2 separate regions of the Homo sapiens genome follow, and region 2 is linked to region 1. Evidence: fine-mapped expression QTL. Tissue or cell type: whole blood. Region 1 holds a variant in brackets; the other region holds the start of a gene. All regions are shown on one strand. Distances are from middle to middle.

Region 1 (8,106 bases):
AGTAGCCAGTAAATGGAAAGAAGCAATAGAAAGCCGTATAAGAGGTTTGAGATGAAATATAAAATATATATTGTTAAGCTTTTCTATAGTTTTTTTTTTCCACATAAGATTTTGACTGAAATACACAGGGACAGCTGAAATATTAAAGTTTGAAAAATTGTGTATTTTGTGTGAGCTGTTAGCTTGTTTTTCAGCCCTGGCTAAGATAAATCATCTCTTGAGAAAGATTGCATCTTTTATTATTTTCATACTAACATTATTATTATTTTTTAATGGATTACATTCAAGGCAGAAGAGTAAATGGCCCAGAGAGACTTATCTTTGGAAATAAATGTTAACAGACAGTAAAGTTTTCTGTGGATCTGTAGATTTTTTTTTTTTTTTTTTGAGACAGAGTTTCTTGTTGCCCAGGCTGGAGTGCAATGGCATGATCTCGGCTCACTGCAACTTCCGCCTCCTGGGTTCAAGGGATTCTCCTGCCTCAGCCTCCCGAGTAGCTGGGATTACAGGCGTGTGCCACCACGCCTGGCTAATTTTGTATTTTTAATAGAGATGGGGTTTCTCCATGTTGGTCAGGCTTGTCTCGAACTCCCAACCTCAGGTGATCCACCCGCCTCGGCTTCCCAAAGTACTGGGATTACAGGCATGAGCCACTGCACCTGGCCAGATCTGTAGATGTTTAACCCTTCTGTTGAAACAGCTGGTGGCATGGAGACAGCAGCTTTCTTTCAAAGCTGAAAGGATTTCCAAGCCAGTTTATGGTACCTTCCTTGGGTTTAGTAAATCTCAGCTTCACAGTAAAATTCCCTGGCCTGCTTAGGTTTGAACATGGCTAGATCTGTCTTTTCAGAGACAGAGCTTGTTATTATCAGTTACTGAAACCTACAATGTTTTCCTTAATCCTAATAGGTTACATATGTAGCGTGCCAATTTGCTTCTGCTCAGTTGTTTTTATAATCAAACTTTTATCCGGCATTTCATTAGTGCCTCTTACCTGGGGCAGTCTTTTTAATGAACATTATTAAGCAGCCCCTTCATCACCATGCTTGCTGTGCTGCAGGCTTCAGAGGGAGTGTAATCAATTCACCTGGTTGCAGATGACAAGAGTGGCTTTCTTTTTATTGGGTGTTGATACTTTAGGGTCCCTATTATGAATGTTTTATGAGCAAAGGTTTGATTCATGTCTGTCAATGTAAGAATGGTTTAATAGTTGATGCCAGGTTCAGATACCGAAGGGAGTTTATATAAAAAAAGCAAACTGCCACCTACTAATAACCTTTAAAAAGTAATATTTCTCAGTCATTTTTCGTTATACATTTGAGGTTGTCAATGAGAAGGAAACTAAAATTTCTACTTAAAAGTTTCTTCTGCAAGCAGTTTAAAGTTATTGTTTTTCCTATTGTAGCAAAAAATAAAGACCTACATTTGAAGGTATCTATTTTATTAATAAAATGTACTGAAGCTGGCCGGGTGTGGTGGCTCACGCCTGTAATCGCAGCACTTTGGGAGGCTGAGGTGGGCGGATCACCTGAGGTCAGGAGTTCAAAACTGGCCTGGCCAACATGGCGAAACCCCGTCTCTTCTACAAATACAAAAATTAGCCAAGTGTGGTAGCGCACTCCTGTAATACCAGCTGCTAGGGAGGCTGAGGCAGGAGAATTGCTTGAACCCAGAGGGCGGAGATTGCAGTGAACTGAGATCGTGCCACTGCACTGCACTCCAGCCTGGGTGACAGAGCGAGACTCCATCTCAAAAATAATAATAATAATAAATAAGATAAAATGTACTGAAGCCTATTCAATAATTTTCATAGTTTCTTAAGAGTTTGGATGGGGGTTGGGGAATATACATTTTCCAGTAAAGTTTGAGGTTATTACCTGGGTATATGTGGTTCTGCATATTAATGACAGAATACACCAACTTGGCTTATATATTTGTGTGGGAAGAAAAGGAATAGGAAAATTTTTCCTGAAATAAGTAAACGTATTGTCAAATTAGGGGTTACTTTGAGATCTCTTATAAAAGTAGTTCCTTAAGCCTTAAGCCTGACATGACATTCTGTGGTGGCCTGGGATGAAGGTCATATCATTTTTTTCCACGTTTTCCCCCTCTGTCTTGAACGTAGTTTCTGTTGTGAGATTATGGTACATGGATGCTAATCAGTAGATCCATATATTACCTGAAGGAAAACTTCCTTGGCATTTCTGCACATGGAGAGTGTATAAATGGTAGTTTGGTGGTAAATTCATAACTCTTTTTTTGTTCTTTTGTCAGGGTATGGGATGATGGGATCATTGATCCAGCAGACACCAGACTGGTCTTGGGTCTCAGTTTTAGTGCAGCCCTCAACGCACCAATAGAGAAGACTGACTTCGGTATCTTCAGGATGTAACTGGAATAAAGGATGTTTTCTGTTGGACATGTACTGAAAATTAACACATGTAGTAGCCTTAAAATTTTAGACTTCTCGAACATGAGGCTGTTACAGTAATTTTTTTAACACTGTGCATTGTACTTTTCTACCTTAAAAAAATCAGTGAGGATATTTATTTAATGAACATCAATTCCTTTTAAATTTTCTTAGAGAAATTTCTCTGTGGCTCAGTTTTACCACCCATAAAGCGGAGACAGTAATTTACGGTTATCCTTTCTGACCCACAAAGTATGAAAAGTTCTGTAATCTGTAAACTCAGTTCTGTAATCTGTATTATTGAGATGATTAATATAAAGTTGTATTTTCACTGAAATGATTGTTTTGCTGGTTATGCTTGGTGATATTTTAGCGGGCTTATTTTTGAAAGGCATCTGTTACTTCAGTGGCATAAAGTGCCCTCACACTGCTGTGCAGCCATCACCACCATTCATCTCCAGAATTTGTTCTCAGTCCCAAACTGAAACTATACCATTCAAACAACAGCGCTCCCCATTTCCCCCTCCCCCGAGCCCATGACATCTCCTTATTATTATTTTTTTTTTGAGACAGGGTGTTTCTCTGTTGCCCAGGCTGGAGTGCGGTGGTGTGATCTCGGCTCACTGCAGCTTCCACCTCCCGGGTTCAAGCGATTCTTGTGCCTCAGCCTCCCAAGCAGCTGGGACTATAGGCACGCACCACCACACCCAGCTAAGTTCTGTATTTTTAGCAGAGACGGGATTTCACTAGGTTGCCCAGGCTGGTCTCAAACTACTGACCTCAAGTGATCCACCCGCCTCGGCCTCCCAAAGTGCTGGGATTACAGGTGTGAGCCACCGCGCCTGACCACATCTCCTTATTCTTAAATGTATGTGTTTCTCATGGTTTGATTTATTCTTGCTGGGCCATTTCAGCCCCTGTCATGGCTTCACTCGCCATCTAAATGCAGATGATTACTGCCTTGACGGTTCTTAACCCAGCTCTCCCCTGAGCTGCAGGCCTGCATATCCAGTAGGTCTACTGGACATCTGTACTGGTTGTTGTGGAGGAACCTCTGGCTTGCTCATTAAGTCCTACTGATTTTCACTATCCCCTGAATTTCCCCACTTATTTTTGTCTTTCACTATCGCAGGCCTTAGAAGAGGTCTACCTGCCTCCAGTCTTACCTAGTCCAGTCTACCCCCTGGAGTTAGAATGGCCATCCTGAAGTGAAAAGTAATGTCAGATTACTCCCTTCAGTGATTTCTTGTAGAAGTGCCAATCCCTGAATGCCACCAAGATCTTAATCTTCACATCTTTAATCTTATCTCTTTGACTCCTCTTTACACCGGAGAACGGCTCCAGCTGTTCTAGCTCTCTTTCAGTTCTTTGAACCTTCCCACCTTAGGGTCTATAAGGTTCCCTCTGCCCAAATTGTTCTACTCTCCCTTCTTCTTCAACACATCCTTCAGTTTAAGCACTTGCTTCTCTCAGTTTAAACTCCACTTCCTTAGGGATGTCTCTGTGACCTCCCTGTGCTGGATTAGCTTCCCTACTCTATGCTCTTGTAAAACA[C/G]TATCTACTTCCTTTGTCATAAACTCATCATTTTCCTATAAACATTAATATTGTCCTCCTGCTAGAATGTAAGCTCCGTGAGAGCAAGGATCCTCCTGTTTACCCTGTACCTCCAATGTCTGGCACTTGTAGGTGCTCAAATATTCGTTGAATGAATGAAAAATCCATATTGTAATTGATGTCCTCTGGCCACATAGTTTTAAAATTAGGTGATTGATTATATGACCGAATAGAACTATCAAATGTTTTCCTAATAAAGTCAATATTTCAAACATTTGTGTGTGATATTTAGTATTTTAAACATTTGTGTGTGATGTTCAATGTGTACCAGGAAGTCAATTTAGTTTTTGTGGGGAGAATATAGATAGATGATCAAATTCAGTGGTAGGTTACATTTTCAGAAGCAATACATTAAGTATATTAAAATAGTAATATTAAAATTTTAATGAAAATGCACATCTATGTCAAAATGATTTTCTATATAAAGACTAGGTAATATTCCTTTGGTAGGAACCATTAACAAGTCAAGGATTCATGGATATTTTAGGACTGCTTTTGCTTTTCTGGGAAGAAACTGTCCATCAATAAAACCACATTTAAGTGAATTGGATTTTTTAAAACTTATTTTTCTAGAGGCAGGGTCTTGCTATGTTGCCCAGGCTGGACTCGAACTCCTAGGCTCAAGCAATCCTCCTGCTTCAGCCTCCCAAGTAGCTGGGACTACAAGCTTGCACCACTACGCCTTGCTCTATTTTGTATATTTTACCCAACAATAAACATTTATAATTGTCTTACCAAAATAGGTAATACTTTTTAAACATTTTGACTATCATAAATATGAATTCCAGCAAGGATAATATGAGCTACTTGGAATTTGAAGAAATATACAAGTTAGTCTCTAAATTTGCCCCTGTTGGTACTTAAAGAATGAAAAAGACAAGATTACTTCTATTTTTCAGTTTATAAGAAAAGTATTTTCAAATCGAATTTGTTAAAAAAAAAAAAACACTTCTGCACCAGCAGAAGGCACTATTGAGTGTTTGAGTGACACCATCATTTGCCAACATGCTTATGTGTATGTCTCTCCAGAGAGAGGCCATATGTTTCCTTCACAGGGATAAATCAAAGCAGGTTTTGGAATGATACATTAATAAGATTATTTTTGAGAGGCCACATTAGTTCTAAAATGCATTGAGTTTGGTTTTATGGAAGATTAAATCTCCACTAAGAGTCTTGGCGATTTTTTTTTTCTTAGTGATCTTCTAATGATTGGTTCTGAAGTTTCATATATGGAAAAATGGCAAGAAGATGAACTAGGTTATCATAGCCTAGTGTCATTCATAACATTTCCCTTAAAATGTTACAATTAAGTACAATTAATATTTAATGATGACATAGATTTTAATCATTTTCGACAAAACGTTTTGTGCCTTTCCACTAAACGCTTAAAAATAGTTTGTTTCAGCGGGGCACCCTGGCTTAACACCTGTAATCCCAGCACTTTAGGAGGGTGAGGCAGGAGGATTGCTTGAGCCCAGTGGTTGGAGAACAGCCTGGGCAACATAGCAAGACCCTGTCTCTACTTAATAAATAAATAAATAGGTAAATAAATAAATAGTGCTTTTATTTTATGTGCTTCAAATTCTCTTGTATCTGGAATCAGGATCCTGAGGACTAAGTTTTTCTTAGGGATGAATGAAATTTCTATGCCCCTTTTACCTTTCTAGGCAAATGTACATTCCATCAAGTTGACTGTGTAACTTACCATCCACATTGGGGCTTTTGAGAGTGAGAAAAAGGGGGTCTTAATAATAACTACACTGGGAAACAGGTCTGAACTGGGACCGACTCATCCCAGTTTGAACTGGGATGTGTGCTCGCTGCCTGTAACATCATCATGACTGAATACTTTGTTTGCATATCAGCTTTTGAAAATTCTTAGAAGCCTTCGCTCAAGATACCTGCTTCATGACTTTCAATATAGATTTCAGTATGATACCAGTCACATAATATGTGTGCATTAGCATTCTAGGGAGTCATTTAATTGACCCTAGAGGAGAGTTTACCATAGGGCAGGGATGATTTTGTTTCCCAGCTGTTAGTTTTCTGAGATCAGTGGTTCAATATGTCTGGCAGCTTTGTCTTTCACAAACCAAGTCACATGTTTGTGCTACTTTTTAGGGTAAGCAAGAGAAGTATTTTTCAGGGAGAATAAGGTCTTAGAAGGTGATGATTTCACAGAGAAGTTATCGCAAGGAAAATATACCCAGAACCAGATGTTAGAAGTAAGCTGGAGTAGAAAAAAAAATTTTTTTTTTTTGAGTCAGGGTCTCGCTCCAGTGCCCAGGCTGGAGTGCAGTGGCGTGATCTTGGCTCACTACAGCCTCTACCCCTTGGGCTCAAGTGATCCTCTCACCTCAGCCTCCTGAGTAGCTGGGACTCGGGCACATGCCATCACGTCCGGCTAATTTTTGTATTTTGTAATTTTTGTGTTAGCAGAGATGTGTTTTCGCCGTGTTGCCCAGGCTGGCTTCAAACTCCTGGACTCAAGTGACCCGTCTGCCTTGGCCTCCAAAAGTGCTGGAATTATAGGCATGAACCATTGTGCTCAACCAAGAAAAACAATTTTTTTAAGTGTAATTCAGTAAGTGTTGATTGTAAGAAGTGAACTCAGAAGAAAAACAGGTAGAATTTTAGAATACTCAGACTAATTTTAAACGTTCCTGTAGAAAATGTATTCAACATTTTTCAGCCACAGCACTGTTAATGACATTCCTTTATCTACCGGATAATTAGAAATAATTTTTGTCTTAAAGTTATTTGTAATCTAAAAATCTAACAATGTTACTTGCGGAAAATTTAGGAAGACAAAGTGAAGAAAATAAAGTGAAAAAAAAGCTTCATAATCTCACTACCTAGAGATAACTGCTATTAATATTTTTCGTGTACTAGTCTTTTTCTATCTTTACGAATTTTTTTTTTTTTGCAAAAATGCTGTGTGCTACATGTTATTCTGTAATCTGCATTTCACTTAATGTATTGTAAATATAATGACCTGTTTACATGAAATTTAATATTCTGCAAATTTTTTTCTTTTTTGAGATGGAATCTCACTCTGTTACCCAGGCTGGAGTGCAGTGGCATGATCTCGGCTCACTGCAACCTCCGCCTCCGGGGTTCAAGTGATTCTCCTGCCTCAGCTTCCTGAGTAGCTAGGACTACAGGCGCGCGTCACGACACCCAGCTAATTTTTGTATTTTTAGTAGAGACGGGGTTTCACCATGTTGGCCAGGCTGGTCTCGAACTCCTGACCTCAGGTGATCCACCCACTTTGGCCTCCCAAAGTGCTGGAATTACAGGTGTGAGTCACCGCACCCAGCCTAATATTCTGCAATAACTCTGATGTTGCACGATAATGCAGTGCATGAATCCTCCCTTTGATTTAACTACTCCCCTATTGTTGTACCTGTAGGTTTTTTCTGGTTTCCCACATTACAGATAATGCTGCAGTGAACATCTGTTTAGTTTCTTTACATATCTGTGATTATTAGGATACATTTTTAGCAATAGTGTTGTTGGATAAAAGTGTACAGGTTAAAGTATACACAGACCTTTAAGACTTGTTGGTAAGTTTTGCTCTATAAGTGTATATTATGGTATTTATTGCTGGATGTAATGGTTACCGTGGTGTTTTTAGATACAGAAATAGCTTCCCATAGAATTAAATTGTTTAGCAGAAACCAATGTTTTCTTTCATTGTTAAAAGTTGTGTCTAGGCTGGGGCATGGTGGTTCATGCCTGTAATCCCAGCACATTGGGAGGCCAAGGCAGGCAGATCGCGCGAGCCCAGGAGTTTGAGACCAACCTGGGCAACATGGTGAAACCCTGTCTCTACAAAAAAATAAAAATAAAAAATTAGCTAGGCATGCTAGTGTGTGCCTGTAGTCCCAGCTACTCAGAAGGCTGAGGTGGGAGGATCACTTGAGCCCGGGAGGCCAAGGCTGCAGTGAACTGTGATCGTGCCACTGCACCCCAGCCTGGGCAACAGAGCGAGACCCTGTCTCAAAAAAAAAAAAAAGCTGTGTCTAAGTGACCATGTCACATTAGCAACGAGTTGTGAAGACTGAGCATTAATGCATGGG
Region 2 (8,106 bases), 70 kb before region 1:
TTTATTATATAAAACATTATTTTGGCCAGGCGCGGTGGCTCACGCCTGTAATCCCAGCACTTTGGGAGGCCGAGGTGGGTGGATCACGAGGTCAGGAGATCGAGACCATCCTGGCTAACACGGTGAAACCCGGTTTCTACTAAAAATATGAAAAATTAGCCAGGTGTGGTGGCGGGCACCTGTAGTCCCAGCTACTCGGGAGGCTGAGGCAGGAGAATGGCATGAACCCGGGAGGCGGAGCTTGCAGTGAGCCGAGATCGTGCCACTGCACTCCAGCCTGGGCGACAGAGCGAGACTCCCTCTCAGAAAAATAAATAAATAAATAAATAAAATAAAAACATTATTTTACTTTATTTTTATTTTATTTTTATTGTTTTTTTTAGAGACAGGGTCTAGCTCTTGTCACTCAGGCTGAAGTGCTTGGCAAGATCATGGCCCACTGCAGCCTCAAACTCCTGGACTCAAGTGATTCTCTCACCTCACCCTCCAAGTAGCTAGGACTACAAGCACATGCCACTGTGCATGGCTATTTTTATTTTTCAGAGACATGGGCTCACTATGTTGCCTAGGCTAGTTTCAAGTTCCTGGCCTCAATAAAACATTATTTTAAAAAATCAGAGATGGCAAAGATTATGTTCCTTGTAATCTCAATAGTGGGGTAGAGAGACACTGGACACTAACAGATGCTAGGTGACTGCTTTTGGCCTTCTGTGCATTTGCACTTCACCTTTTGCATTTTTCTACTTAGCTGTTCTGGGAACATTATACATTTCCAAAGAGCTTCTTGTAACAAAAGTTACAAGAAATAAGAAACATGTATGACTTTTTTTTTTTTTTTTTTTGAGACAGAGTCTTGCTCTGTCACCCAGGCTGGAGTGCAGTGGTGCCATGTCGGCTCACTGCAGACTCTGCCTCTCGGGTTCCAGCGATTCTCCTGCCTCAGCCTCCCAGGTAGCTGGGATTACAGGCACGTGATACTATGCCTGGCTAATTTTTGTATTCTTAGTAGAGATGAGGTTCCACCATGTTGGCCAGGCTGCTCTCAAACTTCTGACCTCAGATAATCCACCTGCCTTGGCCTTCCAAAGTGCTAGGATGATAGGCATGAGCCACTGCACCCGGCCAAAACAGGTATGACTTTTAAAGAAAGCAAGGAATCATATCCTATTGTGTCTTTTCTGTCTTCGGGTGGTGATTTTAAGTACTTTGCATCATTGAAGAACTATTTAGAGAAAAATAAAGTGTGGCAATTAAAATATCAAACCCTCTCTTCTGATACCCTGATACATATGAAAAGTCAGTTTTTACTGGCCTTTTTTTCTGTTGACCATGGGAGGCAAGCACAGTGTAAATCATACCTTTGCAGTTTAGCTCATGCTCTCCTCCATTTGCACAAAGCCTGGCCATGTTCATTGCTCAGTCCACTCTCAACGCTTCTGCAAGGCTCAGCTGCAACCCTTTCCCAATTGCATTCTGTTCCTTTAATGTCTGTCCTACACAGTTCAGTAAGAAATCATGTGGCCATTTGTATTATTTTCTTATAAGTACCTTGAAGTCTGAACCTAAGTTTACCTCCAGGTGTAGACGCACCCTTTCTCTACCCCATCCTCCCCCTTTACTCTGCCCCACTAAGCAACCAATGGAGTAGAAGTAGTAAGTGCTCAATAAATATGTGAATGAAAAACCTTAAGTTCAAGGCATTTTGTATAGAATGTTTTAATTTTTATGGGTATATTTGGAGTCCTTTATTTAAGACCACAGTGCTGATGTCCACAATCTGTCACTACATAGTGCCTGGTGTGGTGGCTCATGTCTGTAATCCCAGCACTTTGGGAGGCTGTGGCGGGCAGATCGCTTGAGTCCAGGAGTTCAAGACCAGCATAGCCAACATGGTGAAACCCCTACAAAAATAAAAAATTAGCCGGGCTTGGTGGCACAAACCTGTAGTCTCAGCTACTGGAAAGGCTGAGGTGGGAGGTCAAGGATTCAGCGAGCTGTGATCGTGCCACTGCATTGCAGCCTGGGCGACAGAGTGAGGCCCTGTCTCAAAAAATGAAATAAAGTAAAAAATAAAAATAACTACATAGCGAAAATAATCAGAAGAATGTTTAAGGTCTCCAGTGAAAGGACAACAGGCTTGTTGTGCTGTTCGCAAGCACGTGTTAGATGCGATTCACTCATGTTGTTGGTGTGTCACTGGGGGTTGTGACTGCAAGTTGTCCAGGTTCTTGGCATTGTGAACAAAGAATTGGACAAAACGCCCAGCAAAGCAAAGAAAGAACAAGGCAACGAAAGAACGAAAGCAGGGATTTACCGAAAACGAAAGTGCACTCCACAATGTGGGAGCGGACCGAGCAGAGCTCAAGGGCCCGGATATAGAATCTTCTTGGGTCCAAATACCCACTAGAAGTTTCCTATTGGCCATTTTATGCTCACCTCAAACCCGATTGGTTGCAAGAAGCAAGCAGTCAGAGGCTAGGGTGAAATTACAAAGTTATACTTCTATGCAAACGAAGACTGGACCCCCAATCAGTCTGATTGGTTGTGGACAGCAACCATTCAGAGGCTGGAGTTAAGGTTCAAACTTGGCAAAGCAAGCCTCCACCAGCAGTAAGTCTGATTTGTCGGGGACAGCCAATTTCCTATCTGCCCTGCGGAAAAGGTGGGGGGGTTTGCAAAGGGAGTAGCCTTTGGTCCTTTTGTTACTTAGGCATGGAAAGTTAGGGTTTTCCTTTCAGTTTAGCTCTAGGAAGTCAGCGTGAGACAGCCTTAGGTTCCCTGCTTCCAGACTTATTCTCCTGCCTTAGGTACAGTCACTATCGTGATATTATCTATCGCTGTGTCAACACAACACCAATCCAAGCCCAACCGCAGCTCTCTCACTGCCGCACCGCTTCGTGAGGGTCGATCCGCCGGGGAGACCTGCTCTCCTGCGCTCGGGACTAGACGCGACCTCGCGGGGCTGAGGCTCTGTCCCTTATTGGCTGGGTCAGGGGGCGTGGCGCGGCTTGACCAATCGCGGGCGGCGCGCTTAGGCACGTGTGTGGACAGGCCTGAGAATCAGAGAAACCTTCTCTGGGGCTGCAAGGACCTGAGCTCAGCTTCCGCCCCAGCCAGGGAAGCGGCAGGGGAAAGCACCGGCTCCAGGCCAGCGTGGGCCGCTCTCTCGCTCGGTGCCCGCCGCCATGTGGGCCGTCCTGAGGTTAGCCCTGCGGCCGTGTGCCCGCGCCTCTCCCGCCGGGCCGCGCGCCTATCACGGGGACTCGGTGGCCTCGCTGGGCACCCAGCCGGACTTGGGCTCTGCCCTCTACCAGGTAGGCTGAGCGCCCCGGTGGCCTGGCCGCCGGTGCCAGGCTAGGAAGCAAGTGGAGGAGGGGCACGCTTCAACAACTGCTGCTCTCTTGTCCGGAGCCCCAGTTGATTCTGTGACGCACGTGAAGTTTGAAGAAGAAAAGCCTAACAGATACAAGAAAGTTTAGTTCACTTTTAGAGCTGGCACTGTACTTTGTGTCTTTGAAATCAGTGGTTCTTAAAGCCTGGTTTAGAATTGCCACCTGGGGAGCTAGCTGAATAGCTGCCTGAGCCCTACTCTGGACCTTGTGGGTCTCAGGTGGAGTCGCTGTGTTTATATTGTTAGTGAACTCATTAGGGGACTTTTGGCAGCCAGCTTTGGGAACCACTGGCCTAGAGCAGCCCAACGAGGGGCGCTGTGCTTAGGAAATTTGAGTTTAAAAGTTGATTATGATGGCCGAGCCCAGTGGCTCACGCCTGTAATCCCAGCGCTTTGGGAGGCCCTGGCGGGTGGATTACCTGAGATCAGGAGTTCGAGAACAGCCTGGCCAACGTGGTGAAACCCCATCTCTACTAAGAATACAAAAATTAGCCGGGCATGGTGGCGCGCGCCTGTAATCCCAGCTACCTGGGAGGCTGAGGCAGGGGAATCGCTTGAACTTGGGAGGCGGAGGTTGCAGTGAGCTGAGATCGTGCCATTGCACTCCAGCCTTGGCAACAAGAGCGAACTCTGTCTCAAAAAAAAAAAAAAAAAAAAGTTGGTTATGTTAATAGAAAATATCCCACAGTATCTTTGAGTGGCTTTTCTTGGAATTAGGAGGCATCATAAGGCCAAAAAACTCAAAACTTGCGAAATATCAGAGCTGGAAAATTTCACTGTGTTCCCACGATTTCTAAGCCTATACAGATAACATCTAAATAGTGCAAACAACACACAATTGTTTGTCAGTCCAGAATGTTTAATTCAGAATTATTAAGTGGTTATTGTGGTCTAGGCACTATTTTAGATATTTGGCATGGATGCGTAGGAATGGAACTAATAATTTTGTAGGGAAGATGGACAAGAAAGCAGGTAACTGTGGTACAGTGTAAGAAGGGTTGTCTAAAGCTTGAGAAGGTGGTTACAGAAAGCTACCGATAGGAAGTAATGGGTGAGATGAATCTTGGGTAAGAGCTGGCCAAGTTCAGGGTGCAGGATGGAAGGTAAGACTGTATAAACCAAGAGAGTTACAAGAACATAGGTACTGAGTTATGAAAGTGTATATCTGGTGTGAGGACTTGAATTCCATGTCTAGGACATGGAATTCATTGAATAGTGTCTGGTGATGGGATTGATTGATTATGGGGCCAGATAGAGGAGGATCTTCCATGCAAAAGCCACATTTAGATTCCATTTGGCAGGTTGTCCATTAAAATATTTAAGTAGATAAGTGGCATGATCCTATGGATATGGTAGAATCATCAGTGTGGTGGCAATGTGGAGGATGGATTGATATAGGGAAAAGACTAGACCTAGGTGACAGTGGAGAGTTGAGTCTTGAGATGAAGGAGTCAAAGTTAGAGTTGTATGTAGGAGGGGGGCATAAATACCTGAGGAGCAAAGATTATAGAGTTAATAACTGAGTGGAAGGGGAAAATGGATGACTTTGGAGTTTCCAACTGGGCAGAATATTTAGTTAGGTGGAACTGCCATTAATACAAAGAAGGCTTTGGTGATGGGTTTTGTATGAATCACCTTTTGCTAGGTTGCGCTTTGTGTAACAAATAATCAAAAAATCTCAGTAACTCACAACAGTAAATATTAGTCTCTCACTTGATTTTGTTTTGTTTCTTAATCTCTCACTCGTGTTGGTGGCCTTTGGTTAGCTGCTGCTGTGACTGTTCCACTGCAGGGTAGGTTCAGGTCTGCTCCATGTGTCTTCCCATTCCTGGACTGAGGCTGAAGAGCAGCCCTGAATTAAACATGCCCTTCTCATGGCCGAAGGCACAGGAGCAAGAGGCTGAACACAAATTGGATTTAAAATCCTTGCTGGCATGTGATGAAATTAATGTGTGCTCACATTAGACAAAGCAAGTCCATGAGGGTGGGGGAGAATGGGATGAATGATCCAGTTTAGCTGTGTTTCCTGATTACAAATAAAAGCAACTATAATAAGTAATAATAATGGCAGGAATTTTATAGTGTACCCACCATTTTTCTAAAGGCTTTATGTGGTTTTACTCATGTATTTATCATAATGATCCTGTGCAGTAGGTACAATTGTTATTTCTGTTTTATAGATGGGAAAACTGTGGTATATAGGGTCCAAGAAATTTGTCTGAGATAACACAGAGCCTGAATTTGAAGCCAGGTGGTCTGGCTCATAACTCTTGAGTCCAGGGTCTTAACTGTTGCTCTATAATGCTTCTCACTCACCCAGCTCTACCTAGGTGGGTTCTATGGTTGAAAAGATGGGGTGGGAAACTTGTCAGTGGCTCAGCTCCAATTCATTATGACTGTCAGGCACTAACCTCTGTGGTTGCTCAGCTTCACAAGAAAATTACTAGGTTGTAGAATGTTGTTTCGCAGGTGATTAAAACACACACACACACACACACAAACACAAACACCTGGCGTCCTGAGAGATCAAGATTTGCCAAATGCAGTATCAGTAAGTAGGGAAACTGAAAGTTGAACTTGGTTTTGCCACTAAACTACACTGCCTCTTGGTTAGTGAGTCTCATCCTAAGGAGGCTAGGTTGGTTGATAAAGGATTGCCTGGGAGGTGAACTGTAGCCAGTACTGGCTCTTCTGTGATTTAAGTCTGATGGGCTGAGCTTGGCACAGATGTTGCCCAGTCTGTAGAGGCAAATGTCAGCTTCAGTGGGTCAGTGCTTTTCTTCTTTGACCCACTGGTTGCTTAAAAGTACGTTGTTTAATTTCCATATATTTGTGAATTTTCCAGTCATCCTTCTGCCATTGATTTCTAGTTTCATTCCATTGTGATTGAAAGGATACTTTTGGGCCAGGCATGGTGGCTCAGGCCTGTAATCCTAGCGCTTTGGGAGGCCGAGGCTGGTGGATCACCTGAGGTCAGGAGTTCTAGACCAGCCTGGCCAACATGGTGAAACCCTGTCTCCACTAAAAATAAAAAAATTACCTGGGCATGGTGGCGCACGCCTGTAATCCCAGCTACTTGGGAGTGTGAGGCAGGAGAGTCGCTTGAACCCGGGAGGCGGAGGTTGCAGTGAGCTGAGACTGTGCTACTGCACTCCAGCCTGGGCGACACGGCCAGACTCCGTCTCAAAAAAAAAAAAAAGGATACTTTGTATGATTTCAGTCTTTTAAAATTTATTAAGATTTGTTTTGTGGCCTGACATGTAGTCTATCTTGGAGAATGTTGCCTGTGCACTTGAGAAAAGTTACATACTTTTTTCTGCTGTTGTAGGGTGACAAGTTCTGTATATTGTGTTAGCTCCAACTGGTTCTTTCCCTAATACCATGCTGCTTCCTTGTTTTTTATTTTCTGGATTTTGCAGAGCAAGAGAATGTAGCAGAAATCATGACCCTCAGAGCTCTTGGAGCTGTAGAAAATAGGAAATAATGGAGATATACTGTAGACTGAATATTCATCTAAGTTTGAACAGTTAGGAAGTTGCTTAGTGTTCTGTCAAACAGAAGGAACTAAATAACTAGAGATGCTAATCACATGGGGAGCAAAATGTATTAGTGGGCCAAGTCTGAATTTCAAAGATAATTAGCTAGTTAAGTATTGTTCTAAAGTAATATGCTGACCAAACAAAATTTAAAAATACAGAAGGGTGAAAAGTTAGTCCCTCTACCTCTTTTCTACTTCTCACTGTCAATATTTCCTTGTGTATTACTTAATTTGTGTATATATGCCAGCATAGAGTTTTGTTCTGTTTTTTTTTTTTTTTTTTTGAGATGGAGTTTTGCTCTTGTTGCCCAGGCTGGAGTGCAATGATGCAATCTTGGCTCACTGCAACCTCCGCCTCCCGGGTTCGAGGGATTCTCCTGCCTCAGCCTCCCGAGTAGCTGGGATTACAGGCAAGCACCACCTTGCCTGGCTAATTTTGTATTTTTTAGTAGAGACGAGTTTTCTCCATGTTGGTCAGGCTGGTCTCGAACTCCCGACCGTAGGTGATCTGCCCGCCTCGGCCTCCCAAAGTGCTGAGATTACAGGCGTGAGCCACCACGGCTGGCCGAGTTTTGTTCTTTTTACTAATTTATTTATTTATTTGAAACAGTCTTGCTCTGTCACCCAGGCTGGAGTACAATGGCACGATCCTAGTTCACTGCAGCTTCAAACTCCTGGGCTCAAGAGATCCTTCCACCTTAGTTGGTCAAGTCGCTGGGACACACCACCATGCCCAGATAATTTTTAAATTTTTATTCTTTTTATTTTTATTCTTTTTGTAAAGATGGAAGTCTCCCTATGTTACTCAGGCTGGTCTCAAACTCCTGGGCTTAAGCGATGCTCCTGCCTCCGCCTTCCAAAGCTCTGGGATAACAGACATAAGCCACCACACTCAGCCTGTTCTTTTTAAAACATAAAATAGGATCCTTGGCCAGGTGCGGTGGCTCATGCCTGTAATCCCAGCACTTTGGGAGGCCGAGATGGGCAAATCACTTGAGGTAAGGAGTTTGAGATCAGCCTGGCCAACATGGCGAAACCCGGTCTCTATTAAAAATACAATAATTAGCTGGGCATGGTGGCACACACCTGTAGTCCCAGCTACTTAGGAGGCTGAGGCAGGAGAATCGCTTGATCTCGGGAGGCGGAGGTTGCAGTGAGCCGAGATTGCACCATTGCA

Evidence for each region. PIP is the estimated chance that this variant, and not a neighbour inherited with it, causes the effect.
Region 2: MCCC2 starts here. The variant in region 1 is fine-mapped to the expression of MCCC2 in whole blood (TOPMed, PIP above 0.99).

What each region holds. Positions count from the first base shown.
Region 1 is chr5:71,654,469-71,662,574 of GRCh38, forward strand. It overlaps MCCC2 (methylcrotonyl-CoA carboxylase subunit 2), which reads left to right. Exons shown (of 17, transcript NM_022132.5): 17 at 2,275-4,238. The coding sequence ends at 2,392. Among named protein-coding and RNA genes, the nearest start is that of CARTPT, 61 kb to the right of the region's middle. The variant C/G (reference allele first, on the strand shown) is at 3,965.
Region 2 is chr5:71,584,241-71,592,346 of GRCh38, forward strand. MCCC2 (methylcrotonyl-CoA carboxylase subunit 2) reads left to right here and starts at 3,100. Exons shown (of 17, transcript NM_022132.5): 1 at 3,100-3,314. The coding sequence starts at 3,186. LOC124900999 (a long non-coding RNA gene) reads left to right here. Exons shown (of 4, transcript XR_007058810.1): 4 at 1-14. RefSeq lists an enhancer at 2,759-3,545.